Regions from separate parts of the Homo sapiens genome. Here region 2 is linked to region 1. A link means that fine-mapping ties the variant in region 1 to the expression of a gene that starts in the linked region. Tissue or cell type: aorta. Region 1 holds a variant in brackets; the other region holds the start of a gene. All regions are shown on one strand. Distances are between the middles of the regions.

Region 1 (2,765 bases):
AAGTGGTGACTTCTGGGGCAGAGGTAGAGATGAGTATTCTCAATTAATACTTCTTAACATTGTTGATTTTTTGAGCCATGTGAATGTATTGCCTAATCAAAAATAAAATTTAATTTCAAATAAAATAATTTATTTTTGTATCTGAAAGACGTAATGTTACTCTTCCATGAAGAATCTTACAATAAAGCTTTAAAAAGGAAAAATGAGCTGCTCTTTAAGACTTGCTGACAGTCACTTATACTACTACGGTATTTTCCAGGATCAACCTTTGGCACTTTTAAAACATGTTAATTTCTCCTCCTGCTTCTAAACAGGTTCTTTTCTTTAGATGAACATTAAAAACTTGAAATAAATCTGAGGTATTTAACATAAAAGCAAAAGACTCCCTGAGGTTAACTTGAAAAAAAGGCTCGAATCAAGGAAAGCCCCTTCTATATTTCATTTTGTGTCAAGCCACACATTTAAGTCTTTACTTGAAAGGTGATGAATTTAACAAGGATTTAGAAATCTTCACTTTGTTCCACTCTTCTAACCCCAAACCCAACCTATGATATTTTTCCTTTCTTTTCTCATCCATTACCTGTGCGGCAGCCTCCTCTTGTCAATCAAGATTACTGAAGCCTCAAACCAAAACTCAGTAGCCTATTAAGCTACTTAAAATAGATTTTTAAAACCCGATTCTTACAACCCCTTCTGATGCATTTCTGCATCCCTTTTCCTGGTTCTTTTACTGAGTTAATAGTCAAATAAATAAATTAGTATTAAAACTTTAAAATAAGCTAAAGCCCCACATGGATATCTGGCAGACTACATTGTGTTCCCAGCATACCTGGTGATTTCAAGGACTTAGCAAGCAGGTGGAAGACTCCATCAACCAGTGAGCACTGCAAACATGTCATGCAAAAACATGGCATTCTCTTTCTAAAAAAACCTCATCACTGGATTGCTTTTCATGGTTACTGGTCTAGATACAAGTTTGAATAGGGGCTATGAATTAGTATGTATTTACTGAGGGTCCAGAATGTTTGTTCTTGCAGAGCTTTAAAATATGGTTGACAAGACACATTTAACATCCAGAACATCTTAGCAGGTCAACTGTGTAGCACACAGGCTGTTAAGCACAGCGGAGCCAGGAGCTACACAAGGCTAGTGCAGACTCAGCAGCTTCATGGACACCTGGCAAGATGTCACAGATGTGTAAGACAAACCAGGGAGGCAATGGGAACCCACTGCTCCCCTGACAGAGGTTCTGCCTTTGAGACAGAAAGGGGTTTGGCTGGGATAAACTGTGGAGGAAGAGCAGCGGTGGAAGAAAAATCAGAACAAATAAATGTGAGTAGAGATGTTTCTTTCTGTAAAACAAAAGTAGGTTGTGATCAGATCCTACAGTGCGCCCAGAGCCAGGCTTGTGGGCTGTTGGCAGCTATATTTATACCCACTGTTATTTAAATGCAAATTAAGGGGTGGGTTAATGCAAATTGGGGGTAGATTATTCAGAACTTTCTAGGAAGGGGGTGCTAACTTCCC[G/A]GTCATTGGCCTTGGCACTAGTAAACTGTCAAGGCGCTGGTGGGAGTGAATTATGCTAATGAGTAGTGAGGGCAGCCAGAAATCCCTTTCCTTGCCATCTGTTGGTCTGGGCTGGTTTCTTTACTTCATTCTGTTTGGACCAGATCCTGTTCTGGTCAGGAGGTTGTGACCAGAAAACAAGTCCTGCTGATCTCCTACCTCGGAACCACCATTTGGGCATGCTATATTTACAGAGTATAGTTAGTGAAAAAACTATCACTTATATTTAAGGCCAAGGCATTAATGAAAATAATCAGGTATCGGGGACATGATATGAAAGGAATACCTGATAAAAATGAGAGTAGCAAAAATTAGAATATTTATTAAATTAGAATATTTAATATTCTAAATATTGAGAATTAAAATTAGAATTCTAAAAATTAGAATATTTAATATCAAATATATTTAATTTACATTACTCTCCAATGTCAAAAATCAAATGCTTTACATAAACATGGAAAGTACAAATAAATTTTATTACTGATTTATGCTACATCTTTAACAGGTGAAACAACCAAGCCAAATCTTTCTTTGACAGAATTTTAAAAGAGACATTTTATTTTTTAATGCAACTATAGGGAGCAGGGTTTCAAGTTCTGCAACCAGAAAACAATTTTGTAAAACAAATATATTCTAAACCCTCGTTGTTTACCATAACCAAATTATTATAGACTTTGAATAACAGTTTATGTGTTTTCACTAAAAAAAAGACTGATGCTGAATTTGAGATACATTTTTAAAAAAATGGTAGCTAACCAACCTGGGCAACACAGCAAGAACCTATATCTCTACAAAAAAATTTAAAAATCAGCTGGGTATGGTGGTACACACCTGTAGTGCCAGCTACTTGGGAGGCTGAGGCAGGAGGGCTGCTGGAACCTAGGAGGTTGAGGCTACAGTGAGACATGATTACGCCACTGTACTTTGGCCTGGGCGACAAAGTGAGACCCTGTCTCTAAAAAGAGTTGTTTAATGAAAAATAAAAATAAAAAATAGTAACTGACCAAATATTCTTAACTAAAGGTTAGGACACAATTATGCCTTGTAAGTAAAAATGGTTTTGGCAACAGTGATAGATGGAGACCAAAGAGAGGAAAATAAATGAAAATTAAGTGAGTAAGTGCTTCAAAACACTAATTGATCTTAGGCTACCTCATCCTGCTGGTATAGAAAAGAATATAGAAAGTTATTGTTTTCTG
Region 2 (2,765 bases), 33 kb after region 1:
TACAACCTGCCCATATTGCTCTCGGGAATTCTAACTATCGGATTACCAGTGACCATAATGCTAAAAAACTGAATAAGGCTTTTTTTTTTTCAAGGCAAAAATCAATTCTAAAATTTGAAAATCTGCTATCAGTGCCGAATATCATGATACAAAAAGGGAAAAATAAAAGCTAAAATTAGTTATATCTCATCCACCCAAAATCAGGCTTCCCCTCACGTCTTTCTGCTCAGCGCCTACAAGTAGGTCTCTTCACACCAACTATGTTAATACCAACACTACATACCCTTAAGGAAGGTGGTGTAGCAAATTTCACACAAAATAATTTTTAAATAGACAAAACTGATAATGGAGATAAAACAAGAATCACACACTTTAGCTCAGTGCAACAATACCCTAGACTTGTCTTTATAAGGCAATACAGTATAACGAAATTTTAAAAGGCAAAAATAAAAGTAATCCTTAACCTAAAACGGACAAAATGTACAAACTCCAAGTAGAACAGGCATCAGGTAAGTCCTTTCCAACCTTGCCTTCCTCTCACCTTTCACTAGACAACGCAGGCTAGTGACTTCCTGGGGTAAGAAATCAAAGTGACCAATTCCATGGCACTATGGGAAGTGAGACTCGTCTCAACAGAGTTTTGTGTTTTAAAACAAGAAAGCCCAAAGCTTTGAAATAAATTAATTAATAGATGATGGAATTTCAGGTATTAATGAAATTACCATTACTCGACTGCAGGCAGCCGTGTCCTTGCAAAAAGACCATGTGATGCCGCCTGTGAACGCACAGGGATAGGCCTCTTAAGGCAGGACTGTAGCGCTGGAGCTAAAGGGCTTTAGCAGGGGTGCGCCTGAGTGTATGCAGAGGGCGGGTCCTGGCAGGACGAATTCACCGCCACTGCCAGAACGAACTATTCAGATTCACGTGGAGCAAGGGGCTCATGCAGAAGCAGTTCCCGGACCCGACACTCTGGGTAGGAGACCACTAAACCCGGCCCCTCAAAGCAGAGGTGACCTTGCCCTCATCGAGAGCGCACACAAGACGCCACTGTAAAAGGTGGGTTCGCTGCTCGCCTCCTCCCAGGCCCAAACAATCTCGCCCTGATTGTTGCTGGCCGCGCGGAGCAGGGGTCGGCTTAGCTCGGGGACTGAGGGGAGCTCCTCCTGCGCCGCTCACCCGGCGCTCGCCGAACAGGTCCAAGCGGCTGCCCTGGGGCTTGACATTGAAGGCGGCGCCCACGGGAGACCAGCTGGTGCTGACCCTTCGGGCCCGGATCCCGGCTTCGAGGCTTCCCCGGCCCGCCCGGCGGGGCGGCAGAGCTGCTGCTCTGGCTCCCAAGCCGCCCAGCCTTCCGACGCACAGCATTCTAGCACCAGAGCAGTCCCTTCCTCCAACGCAGATCCCTGCCCTGCTGCTTTCGCTGGGAGCGCGCGCTCCGCGTTTCCAAGGCAGCAGCCCACGCCGCCCCACGTGACGGCCCCGCTTCCGGGTCTGGGCGCGGCCTCAGGACGTGGGCACGTTGTCGTCCAGAGAGCAAGAGCGTCGCTCCCCCTCGCCTTCTCGGCCGCCCTCCCGGTTTACCGCCCCCTGTGTCCAGAGTAAGAAAAGGCTAGGGTTGCGCTTCCCTCCCAAGTTGACTAGGGGTGGGCGCGAGTAAAATCATGACATATTCGAATTCCAGTGGACATTAGATATTCTTTGAGAGACGGCAGGTACTTGAGTAAACAAGAAATGCCCACCATAGGCCTGAAGGAGAAGTTTCCCTTTTAACCTACTCTCTTGGTAAATTTATCCTGCACTTCTCTGTTTGGTGTCTCTGTCCGGTAACTTTTTACTCTTGCATAGCTCAGTTAAAAATTTTAGATGGGAAATAGTGAAAGAAGTCTAATGGGATTTTCCCTCCAGGGTTTCAGAATTGCCTGGGACCCGTGAACCCTTTTTTCCTTCCCCTTTCTCTCTTTTGGAATGGATTGTCTACCCTATGCCTGTCTCCCCCTCCAACCCCCGGTCTTTTAGAAGTGGATTAACTCGTCTCGCTTCACAGGATCACAGATGGAGAGACATTTTGCCACACGATGAATCACACAGTAAGTCTCCTCTGTAGCTTATTTAAATGATGTAGATGGTGAGAGGAGTTGATGCGGAAAGTGTTAAGACTTTTGGTAATGTTGACATGGTGCGAAAATGTATTTTGCACATGAGAAGGAAATCAATTTTGGGAACCAGAGGGCAGATTGGGTTGAACTGTGTCTCCCAAAATAGATGCTGAAGTCCTAACCCTCGGTGCCTGTACATGTGACCTTATTTGAAAATATGGAGTTTGCAATTATGATTAAGATGGGTCATACTAGATTAGGGAAGCTGTTCTTGTAAGAAGAGGAAAATTTGGCTGATACAGGAGGAGGACAGCCACCTGAAGATGGAGGCGGGGACTGGAGTGATGCTGCCACCAGCTGCCAGAAGCTGGAAGCAGCAAGGCTGCATCCTCCTGTATCCCCTTTGGAGGGAGGATGGCCCTGCTGCTACGGTGATCTCAAACTTCCAGCCTACAGAACTGTGAGAAAGTCCGTTTCTGTTGTTTAAAGACTCCCAGTTTGTGTACTTTATTAGGGCGATCCTAGAAAACAAGTAGAGATTCATGTCTGGCAAATAATGATCAAACAATGATTTGTTGGATAGAATGGTGATTAAAACCTAGGTTAGAAAATGAGCAAAATGGGAGGGAAAGCACCAGGACAAATAGCTAATGCATGCAGGGCTTAATA

Evidence for each region. PIP is the estimated chance that this variant, and not a neighbour inherited with it, causes the effect.
Region 2: it holds the start of MIPEP, and the variant in region 1 is fine-mapped to the expression of MIPEP in aorta (GTEx, PIP above 0.99). The same link has a PIP of 0.9 or more in cerebellum.

What each region holds. Positions count from the first base shown.
Region 1 is chr13:23,855,048-23,857,812 of GRCh38, forward strand. All of the region lies in intron 10 of MIPEP (mitochondrial intermediate peptidase), which reads right to left. Among named protein-coding and RNA genes, the nearest start is that of PCOTH, 32 kb to the right of the region's middle. The variant G/A (reference allele first, on the strand shown) is at 1,528.
Region 2 is chr13:23,887,956-23,890,720 of GRCh38, forward strand. MIPEP (mitochondrial intermediate peptidase) reads right to left here and starts at 1,445. Exons shown (of 19, transcript NM_005932.4): 1 at 1,177-1,445. The coding sequence starts at 1,365. It overlaps PCOTH (prostate and testis expressed opposite C1QTNF9B and MIPEP), which reads left to right and starts at 913. Exons shown (of 4, transcript NR_172510.1): 1 at 913-1,056; 2 at 2,045-2,087. RefSeq lists enhancers at 1,225-1,725, 1,785-1,844.